Linked DNA regions of Homo sapiens: region 1 is linked to region 2. Evidence: fine-mapped expression QTL. A gene starts in region 2. The other region holds a variant in brackets. All regions are shown on one strand. Distances are from middle to middle.

Region 1 (5,366 bases), 23 kb before region 2:
GGGGAGGAAGATTCCCTCTGGAGCTTTCTTCCTCTTCTATGGGCCAGTGTCCCCCTGCTCGACTTCGCTCTTCAGGGGCACGGGTCCCCCCTGCCTCAGGCTCTGGGACCAGGAAGGGTGGGCCCAGATGGGGAACAGGTGAATCCAGAGACCCATCAGGAGGTTTGGGAGGCTCTGCAAGGGGCGGGTATAGGCTGTCATAGCTCTTTCGAAACTGAGCAGCATAACGGCTCAGGGCTTCAAAGGGCAGAAAGCGGCGGTGGACATGTTCCTCGTGTGTCTTGAGGATAAGCATATTGGAGAAGAGTTTCCCACAGGCCCCACAGGCCAGCTTGTCCCCACCCCCGAGGGCCTCAGGTGGGGGTGGGGTAGGGGGAGGGGGCACAGCTTGCTTCCCTTCATTGTACTGGATCACCAGCTCAAAGCCAAAGTTTTCTAGAAGGGCTTTGGCTGCAGTGCGGGCAGCCTCGTTGGGCAATGGGTCGGGGGGTGAGGAAGGCCCTGCCTCATTACCCTCTTTGGCCATGGGGGGCCGCTCCCACTCCCGCTCAGCCAGCTCAGCCTTGGGAGGTTGGGGTGGAGGAGGAGGGGTGGCAGCTGGCAGGGACAGCACAGGTGCAGGCCCAGCTAGTGTCAGCTTGGGCCCCACCTTGAGATCGTGGAGGTAGAAGGGCAGGAGCAGCTGCTGCTGCTGGAGCTTAAGCAGTGATTCGGGCACCAGAGGGAAGGGGGGCAGGACTGGTGGGGTGAAGAGAGGGGCTGGGAATCGGTGCAGGTCCAAGGGAGGTGGGGGAGGGGACAGGAAAGGCAATCCAGATATGAAGCCACTGGTGTCAGGGCCCTTCTTCTCAGTGCCCACCTCCCCCTCTGTCTCGCCTTCCTTGGGCTCTTCTTGGCTGCGTTCTGGCCCTTCAATCTTGGAATCAGTCTTGGTTCCCCGAGAGCGAGTCTGATGCAGAACTGACCGCATGTGGATCTCCAGGGTGGAGCTCTGGTTGTAGGAGACTCTGCAGACTGTGCACTTAAAGGGCTTGTCTGTGGCAGCAGTGGTGGTGGGTGGGGCACCGGCCTCTCCCCGTGCAGGGGCAGAGGGGTCAATGGCAGCCTTCTTCATCTTGTGAAGGTGGGAGACAGAATTATAATGAACCAACAGAATATTCTTCTGGGTGAAGGACTCCTTACACACAGTGCACTTATAGGGCCGGGCAGGGTCGAGAAACTTGTCCAGGGCAAAGTTGGTGGTTTTCCGATAGGTCAGAGGGTGGCGAGAGTCAGCTGGAGCTGGCTCTGCAGAGCGGAGCTCCCCAGTGGTCCCCTCTTCCTCCTCAGCCATGGTGGGCGGAGGAGCTACGTCTTCAGCTTGGGCATCAGGTTCAGGGACTGGAGATGGGGCTGGAGAAGGGGGTTGGCCAGGGCTTCCTGAGGGTTTGTCTGGGACCTCAACTGAGGCCAGGGGAGGCTCAGGAAGAGGATCTGGACTGGCTTCTGGGGTCAGGTTAGGGCCTTCTAGGGGAGAGAGAAGAAAGTACAATGAGGAGGGAACTTCGTTTAAGCCAGACCCCACCCACTCAATACCAAGGCAGTTGACCTTGGCCTCAGTCATCTTCAGACCTTGTTGGCCCATGGAGTCCCCTTTCCTGGTACCTTGGGAGGTTTGCTGTTCCATTCCTTACCTGCTGCCTGGTCTCTGCTCGGTGTAGGCTCTGGCCCATGAGTGGGGGGTTCTTGGCCATTGTCCAGAGGGCTTAATGTGGGTGCAGACAGCACTTTGGTTGTAAATGTCATTTCTACAGTTGTAGCCTGCAATGAGAAAAAGCCTAGTGGCTTCACCACCACCCCCCACTGCCCCTATGCCACTCCTGACCCATCTGCCCTACACCTGTACTTGTGCCGAGATCCCTTGCCACAGATCCAGCCTCCTGTCTGAACAAACCTCCCACCTAATTGCTGCTTTTGCTACAGATGAGAGAGCCTGGGCTGCTACCTCTCCTATCTGGCTTCCTCTTTCCCCAAACCAGAAGTCATCATTCTTTGAGGCTACCTGGTCTGGCAGGCTGGTACCTGCTGTTCAACAACTCTTCTCAGGACTTAGTGGAGGTGAAACAGAAGCCTCTGCCTCATCTCTTAAGTAGAGGCAGCTAGACAAGCTCAGTTCTGAGTCTCCCTCTCTAAAATCCAACTTCAAATCCATGAAATGCTGCTTTTGTTGCCAACACATGCACTTGCCTGAATACTCCTGCCTCTTCCTCCCCTCCTGGATGGCCCTAACAAGGCCTTGTCGGACCGTCCTCACCCAGCCAACACACGCACTTGCCTGAATGCCCCCTGCCCCCAACACATGCACCTGCCTGAATACCCCTGCCTCTTCCTCCCCTCCTGCACAGCCCTA[A/G]TAAGGTCTTGTTGTACCGTCCTCACCCAGCCTGTACTCACTACAAGCAGCAGCTTCTCAACGCACTCGGGCACCACGTTGTGAAGGTGGCTAAGGTGGAAGTGCAGGGCAGGCCGGCCCACCAGCTGTTCCTGGCACAGTGGGCATCTGTACTTGGGCTGCACTGCATGCTGGGAGAGTGTATGAGCCCTCACCTGGCTGGACTCTGGGCTCAGGAAGCTGCAGTATGGACAGCAGTATACCTGGAGGGAACATATGGGCAGTGGACGAAGTGTCAGGGAAGGATGGGACCCACCATCACATAGTCCTTTGGATGCAGCACTGGCCCGCCCCCACTCCTTTTTTTTTTTTTTTTTTTTTTTTAGATGGAGTCTGGCTCTGTCACCCAGGCCGGAGTGCAGTGACGTGATCTCGGCTCACTGCAACCTCCGCCTTCCAGGTTCAAGCAATTCTCCTGCCCTCAGCCTCCCAAGCAGCTGGGATTACAGGCGTGTGCAACCACGCCCAGCTAATTTTTGTATTTTTTAGTGGAGACAGGGTTTTGCCACATTGGCCAGGTTGGTCTTGAACTCCTGATGCCAGGTGATCTACTCATCTTGGCTTCCCAAAGTGCTGGGATTACAGGCGTGAGCCACCACGCTTGGCCTCTCACTCCTAATTGAAGAGGAACTAGCCAGATAGGAAGGCATTATAGCAGACCCAGCCTCCAGCCACAGTCCTGAGAGCTGGCTCCTCCCCACTTTCCCTTGGATTGGGACAAAGGCCTAGCTTAGGCCGCTACCTTGCACTCCTTCTTTGTCTGGCCCTCTTCCACCATCCTGGCCTCTCTGCCTTTTCTTGGTGTGTCTTTCCCAGTCTTTGCTGCCTGCCTCAACTCTCCAGCTAACAGATGGCTCTGTACCTACTGCCCCCACCTTGGATTTAGTTTTCTTCTCTTACCTATCCTATCCTGTCGTGTCTTCTCTGTGAAATGGTTCCATTTCCTCTGGGCATTTTCTGGACCCAGAGGCTCCCTTGTCCCTGCCCACTCTGCCTCTGTGAACCATCACCTGGAAAGGGGCCCTACCTGTCTGCTCAGAAGCCAGCTCATCCTCCCTCAGGCTCAGCAGCTCCCACCTTATTTTCCATCTTTCTTTTTCCTTCTTCTTTTTCCTAATGTGAATAAACACCACAGCTCCCCCAGTGGCCCAGGAAAATTCTGGCCCAGCCCTCTCAGCACATTCTCAGCCACACTTCCAGAGGGGTGAGGCTGCCAGAGGCCCCACCATCACCTGACTGCCAGACCTACCCAGCCTGCATCCAGGCTGGCACCAGTGGCACAGGCCTGTGTGTCAGGGAGGGGATGACTGTAAAGGAAGGGGATCCAGATGCTCATCTTAACGCACCTAGCCCCTGGAGCAGACATCTGGAAGAGGTCTGTTGGCGGGAGCAGGAGTTAGGAAGAAAAGATGCTGAGGACATAAGGCATTACTTCAGCTTGCAGTAATGCAGTAACACTGCGTATTGCAATAACAATAAATGTTACATATTGTAGTCCAGTTTGGAGAGCTGTGAGGCACAGGATGGCATCTCAAACCAGAGGCTGGGAATCCCCTCAGAACACAGAGCTGCCATTCCTGGGTGCTGCCTAGGTCTGAGTCCTGGGGATTTAGAGATTTGTGGCACATGCTGTCAGTGTGAATCATTTGGTTGGTGCCCCTACCCTTAGTAAGAGGATGCCAGGACAGTTCCATCCAGGCTCAGGGCGTTTTGTAGGGTAGGAACACCGGTGTCTTGTCTTTCTGCTCCTAACTAAGGGATAAAGAGCTGGGCAGTAGCTGGTTGTTTGCTTTTGCCTTTCTCCTCCCCTCCTTCCAGCATGTACCCCCACTCTTTCCTACTCTCAGCACAATTCCTTTATTCATCTTTCCCTCAAGTTCCTGCTGTCTCCCTCCTATCATCTCCCTCTGTGCTTGACCCTGCTGGGCCAGCTCTGCCCCCGAAAGTGCTGAACATGTGGAACTGGATCTGGGTGGAATTTCTTAACTGTGCTATTCTGAGTGAAATAAGTCAAAGCATGACAAAATTACGTCTGCCTTTAGAATATGAGCAGATCTCAGTAAAGCCAGGCCCCCACTTCAGCTCTTCCCAGTTACCCCAATTCTGACCGTGGTCTGGTTGGCACTGTCTCTGGAAGGGCCAGTCTTGTTTTCTGTCTCTTCTGAAGCTGAGGATGAAAGAAGAGGAGATTAAGGAACCCTGACAGCCCTCAAGATGATTTGTAGCAGAGAGCTTCCAGGGTAGGGAGTTGGGCACTAGAGAAAGGGCAGGAAACTCAGTAGATAGGTGAGGCTTGGCAAGGGCTGACTCCGGGTCAGTAGGATGGTCAGGTCTGAGTTCTCAAAGAGGGCGGAAGTGCCTAGCCTCTCGTGGCTCAGCCTCCCTTCCCCCTGATGAGCCCTTTCTTTAATCAGTTTTGCTCCTTGAGCACAGACATTGCTGGGCTCCTGGATTACTGCAAGGTCCCGTGAGCGTCTCAGAAGGTAGGAGGACTGGGGGGAAGGGAGGGAAAACTCACCCAATTGTTCTGTCTTGTTCTGGGCATCTTTCTCAGGGGTGGGTGGCTCAGCTAAGGGGGTGACAGGAGCCTTCCCTGTGTAGGATGGGGGGAGAGTCAGCTTAAAGAGGTGTGGCATCAGGGAAGGGAGGACATAGGACAGAGGAAGCAGGACAAGCAGCCAGTCAATGAAGGAGAAAATGGATGGCTCAATCAGCAGGTAGGAGAGTATGAAAAGCCAACAAAAAGAAACACCCACACAGAAGATAGAGGGAAAATTACAGTATTAGAACTGGTAGGGCCTAAGAGATCATTTTATTAAGAGTCCAGTTCCTGTCCTTTTATAGAAGTCCAGCAGTAGACAGCAGAAACAAGACCAAACTCAGCTCCCTGTCTTAAATGACCCAGGAAATGGGAAGCCCCAGAGAAATGTAGTAGGAG
Region 2 (5,366 bases):
AGCAAGTGATTCCTGTATGGGTCTCAAGGTAACACCAGCTGCCTCTGACATCATGGAGGGAGGAACCCTGTCAGGTTGCCAAGGCAATACCAGCAATTTATGACATCAGAGGCTTGAGGTCTTTGGTTCTCAGGGGCTGGGAAGATTCAAGTTCCTCTCAGCTGAAGTTTATGGGAATTCTACTTTTTCATCTCTTTGCTTGTGTTCTGGCTTGGGAATGAAATACAAAGGCCTTTCGTGGGGGTAGTGAGTGATTAGGCCAATGAAATGAATGCTCGTGAGGTTCTCTCTCTCTCTGTCTCTTCCCTGGATATTTCTGCTTTCTCTCCCTCTCTTGGGCATTTCTCTCTTCTGGGGCTTCGCCCAGTGGTATTCCTGCTATTTGTGCTATGCTTTTTTTCCAACCCCCCGGCGCCCCCGCAGTGCTCTCGCTCTCTTCGCATCAGTCACGCTGTGTCCTCCTCACACCAGAGGCATTTGTTTCCTTTGATACCTCATCCTCTCCTCTTTTCCTCCTACCAAGCTCTGTGCAGCTCTGATCTGCCTCAGCACTCCTTCGTTTGCCATCCATTTACCTTCTTTGTACCATACTCTCTTCCCATCTCATCTTGTTCAGCAATTCCTCCCTTCCCCCTCTTTACTACTGTATTAATTTCATAGTGCTTTTTCTGTTGACCTCCACTTTAGGAATATTCTATCATTTCTCTTCCTTTTACCTTCTGTATTGCTATCAACACGTTTTGTTTCATTCTTCCAATTTCTTATTAATCACCCCTTGGTTCCTCCCCTGCCCCCGAGTCCGCATAGATTTTCCTCCCTTCCTTTGCACATCCCTCACGTCATACATTTCTCTACCCCATGTGTTTATTGCACCGACCACCCCTTTCTTTCTTTAATTCTGTTCACCTCTGAAATCGTCCATCTTCTGCCCATGTCTGCCTGCTCCTTTTACCTTTCCAAGCTCCTGAGGTTTGGAAAAACAATGATGGGCTAAAAACTAAGGTAAACTCTCCAGATCCTTTATCCACCCTTACTGTTCTTCAGGCTAAATGAACTTGGCTCCTTACATACGATAGCTTTTATTACACTAATAAACACTGCCTCATTAAAAAAAAATGGTGCTGGATCTAAATATGATAGTAGCAGGGGCCTAGGAAGAAGATGAACTAAAAAGTGAAGAAAAAGCAACTGATATCTAGAATGAACTGAAGGATGGGGGGCAACCAGGCAGGGTGGAGCTTAGAGTCCTAGGGAATGTCCCCTTACAAAATCAAAGTTGACAGTTAACTGACATAATGGCACTGACTGATGGAGGGGTTATATGCCCCTGGAAGCTCATTAAATTTATTTCTTGGCCTGTTTATGTGCCTTCACAAACCATACCCCACACCTCTCCCAGCCCTTTGCTTGCTGGTACTTTCTGCTGCTGGGGTTAAAATGCTGGATAAGAGGAAAAGGGATAAAAGAAACTAGAAACTTAGGGTGATCAAGAAGAAAAGGTAGGAAGAGGGCAGATTATGGGAACAAAGGTGGAAACTCAGAGCTCATGGGAAACAGATGGAAAAAAGGGGTGAAGCAAAATGGGGAAATAAAAAATATACAATGATACAGTGGGGGAAGGGAGTAAAATTAAGTCAGCAGGGAAGAGGTTTTGTTGTGCGAAGCTCCTGGAAAGGCAGATGACACGCATGAGACCAGAAGGTGAGGTTCTGATGAGGGAGACAGGCACATGGCAAAGGGGACAGTCAACAATGCTAGGAAGTTCCAAAGCTTCTCTGGTGATGGTGGAAGAGGAGGCTGTCCTGGCCATGCTGAAGGCACTAGAGGCTTTGGCGAAGACACATTTGCTCCATCATCCCACTCCTCCAGGCCCTGACTGTGACCACCACAATCATGACTGATAAGCAAATTCCAAAGTAGCCTGAAAAGGCCAGAGATATCCAGACAGACTCTGAAGGAGAGGGCATGGAATCCTAGACCGACAGAACAGGCAGCCAAGGCGTGACACATAGTGATAGAGACACACAAGGAGAGGATCACTCAGATGGGAAGGGTCACAAGTGGAGACAGTGACATACAGATCCAGAGATGGATGGGATGGAAGAGACAAGATGAAGAACAGCAAAACCAAAAGTCAGGGACACATGGACAGAGATCAGCGGGGCTACAGGCACAGCGAGGAAGCGTGGTCCTGTGCTTGAAAATGATAGGGCTGCTCAGAGGGGCAGACGAGCGGATGGGGGTGGTAGGATGGGCGTGCAGGACAGACACGCTTCACCTTGAATGGGCTTATGGCCTCCCCTCACCTACTCAACACTTTCAAAAAAAGGAATGGAAAGCCCAACTTCAGCCAAAAACGAACGAAGACTGAGAGTATCCACGTCCCCTCCCACTCCACGCCCCAGCGCGCTAGCCCATCCATCAGCCCGCCGGCCGCGGTTCTCCCATCCCACAGCCGGCGGGGGGCCGCCGAGACCCAGGACCCTCCAGGCTGACAGCTCTGAGCCCTCACACTCACCGGGCCTCCCCTTCCCCCCGGGATCCCCGCTCCCTGCCCAACTCGGCGCGGTCCGTCTAGGCTTTCCATACCCTTCGTCTGTCCGGCGGGCCTCTGCCTTTCCCGTTCCCGTTTCTCCCTCCACCCCCGCATCTCTCTTCCCCCATCCTCGCGCACGCCCTCTTCCTCCCACACCCCTGTCTGCTATCTCCCAGGGCTCTCGGTCTGTCTGTCCGTCCGTCCTTGTCCCCTCCCCCAGCCCCTTCCCGTCCCTCTCCGTCCCCTCCAGCGGCAGTCTCCAAGCGCCTCCTCTCCCGTCTCGAGCTTCCAAAGAGCAAGGAAGGGAAGAAGAGAGAGAGGGAGAGGAGAAAAAAACCAACCCAGCAGCATCGGAAATCGATGCACTTACACCTCAGCTGGAAGCAGGGACGGGAGTCGAACCGCGGCCACCGAGCAGCGCGAGGCGGGGAGGGGAGGGGGCGGCTCTTGGAAGGGACTTCTCCGATGTGTTGATTCCTCTTTTTTCCCCTCCTCCTCCCTCCCTCCAGCGCTCGCTCCGGGGCGTCAGGGACGGAGACGGAAAAAAATAAATAAATAAATTCACGGCGGTGAGGGAAGTGAAGGAAAATAATCAATGCTATTTGGCTGCGGCTGAAGTGTTTCCCCGGCTTCGTGAGGGGGTTTCCATTGATTCACCCTGGGCACTCGCTCGCTCCCTGCCTCCTCCTCCTCCTCCTCCTTCTCCTCCTCGCCCTCCTCCTCCTCCTCCTCCTCGCCCTCACTCCTCCGCCTCATTCACTGGCTGGAGTCTAGGCGTCCCACACAATGGAATAATCAATACCCAGGCGCCCGGGGCTGCCCCACTGAGCAGGTGCAGCGACCCGCCCGCCGCGGCGCATGCCGGGAGTTGTAGTCTGTTCGCGCCCGCCCGCCTGCCTCGCGGGACCCAGGGCCGGGGGCAGGCCGGCCAGCCCACCAGGTCGCCTCCAGGTTCAAGCCGGTGCCTGCAAAGAGGGCAGGCCCCTTTAAACTCTTTTCCGTCTCCTCTCCTCTTCATCCTGTGGCCTGCAGAAACCATACATGTGTTTTGTTGTTTTGTTTTAAATCAGCTTCAGAACAAGCCCTGAGCCGCCCAAGGCCTCCTTTTTTCATTCTCTTCTTCCTGCCTTATTATTCCGCCTCCCCCATCTCCCCCCGCGAAATTGGGTACTAGAACCTTCTCTACCGCAGCAATTACTCTTTAGTCTCTGAGAGCTTCTGCCTCCTCCACACGGTTACATAGTCCCCTGAGCTGGGTTGGGGGAGGTTCGGGCTCCTCCTCATCTTCAGTTTATCGCTTATTAAGTGCTCCTGAATTTTTTTTTTTTTTTTTTTTCTGGAGACGGAGTCTCACTCAGTCGCCCAGGTTGGAGTGCAGTGGTGCGATCTCGGCTCACTGCAACCTCCACCACCGGGTTCAAGCGATTCTCCTACCTCAGCCTCCTAAGTAGCTGGGATTACAGGCATGCATCAACACACCCAGCTAATTTTTGTATTTTTAGTAGAGACGGGGTTTCACCACGTTGGTCAAGCTGGTCTCGAACTCCTGACCTTGTGATCCGCCTGCCTCGGCCTCCCAAAGTGCTGGGATTACAGGTGTGAACCACCACCGCGCCCAGCCCGTTTTTTTGTTTGTTTGTTTTTTTCTTGAGACAGAGTCACTCTGTCGCCCAGGCTGCAGTGCAGTGGCATGATCCCGGCTCACTGCAACCTTCACCTCCCAGGTTCAAGTGATTCTCCTGCCTCAGCCTCCCAAGTAGCTGGGATTGTAGGTGCCCACCACCATGCCCTGCTAATTTTGTATTTTTAGTAGAGACGGGGGTTTCACCATCTTAGCCAGGCTGGTCTCGAACTCCTGACCTCAGGTGATCCACCGGCCTCAGCCTCCCAAAGTCCTGGGATTATAGGGGTGATCCACCTCACCCGGCCGCTCCTGTATTCTAATAATAATTTTTAAGATTTCTTGAATGCACAGGGACAGTTCCAAGCACTTTTACATACATTGTTTACTCCTCTCAATACCTCAAGCATGAGGTAGATGCTATTATAGTCTCATTTATTGAGGAAACTAAGGCACAAACAAGTGAATTAACAGGCCCAAGGTCCAATGGCCAATAAGTAAGTGACAGTGCCAGGACTCAAAAACCTCCATGGTCTGGCTCCAGGGCCCATACTAACTGCTATAGCCTACTTCTCTTAAACAACACAACAAAACCCTGAAGTTCACATGACAAAAAGGAGAGATAAATGAACATTTTGAGTTTATACTATGTGACAGTTTATGACTGAATCCTCACAGGTAACTGTGAGGCAGGCCACATTTTCTCAATGAAAAAGCAGAGGCTGGCCGGGCATGGTGGCTCACTCCTGTAATCCCAGCACTTTGGGAGGCTGAGGTGGGTAGATCACCTGAGGTCAGGAGTTCGAGACCAGCCTGACCAACATGGTGAAACCCTGTCTCTACTAAAAATACAAAATTAGCTGGGCGTGGTGGTGGGCACCTGTAATCCCAGCTACTCGGGAGGCTGAGGCAGAAGAATCGCTTGAACCCGGGGGGCAGAGGTTGCGGTGAGCCAAGATCACACCATTGCACTCCAGCCTGGGCAACAAGAGTGAAACTCCGTCTCAAAACCAAAAACAGGCCGGGCGTGGTGGCTCACACCTGTAATCCCAGCACTTTGGGAGGTGGAGGCGGGTGGATCACAAGATCAGGAGATCGAGACCATCCTGACTAACAGGGTAAAACCCCATCTCTACTAAAATTACAAAAAATTAGCCGGGCATGGTGGTGGGCACCTGTAGTCCCATCTACTTGGGAGGCTGAGGCAGG

Direction of the effects. Positions count from the first base shown, and alleles are read on the strand shown. Sizes are in standard deviations (SD) of each study's normalised expression.
With allele A in place of G in region 1, the expression in prostate of the gene that starts at base 3,329 in region 2 is lower (moderate effect, 0.47 SD a copy in GTEx).

What was found. PIP is the estimated chance that this variant, and not a neighbour inherited with it, causes the effect. A credible set is the group of variants that fine-mapping cannot tell apart.
Region 1: its variant is the best candidate, but not a certain one, in a credible set for the expression of ZFHX2 in prostate (GTEx, PIP 0.72).

What each region holds. Positions count from the first base shown.
Region 1 is chr14:23,525,174-23,530,539 of GRCh38, forward strand. ZFHX2 (zinc finger homeobox 2) reads right to left here. Exons shown (of 10, transcript NM_033400.3): 5 at 4,947-5,021; 6 at 4,537-4,595; 7 at 2,431-2,631; 8 at 1,674-1,800; 9 at 1-1,506. It overlaps LOC124903289 (a long non-coding RNA gene), which reads left to right and starts at 4,841. Exons shown (of 2, transcript XR_007064079.1): 1 at 4,841-4,911; 2 at 5,273-5,366. It also overlaps a transcript of THTPA not described here. RefSeq lists an enhancer at 1-404. The variant A/G (reference allele first, on the strand shown) is at 2,390.
Region 2 is chr14:23,548,437-23,553,802 of GRCh38, forward strand. ZFHX2 (zinc finger homeobox 2) reads right to left here and starts at 3,329. Exons shown (of 10, transcript NM_033400.3): 1 at 2,907-3,329. It also overlaps a transcript of THTPA not described here. RefSeq lists enhancers at 2,121-2,783, 3,633-3,682 and a silencer at 3,263-3,502.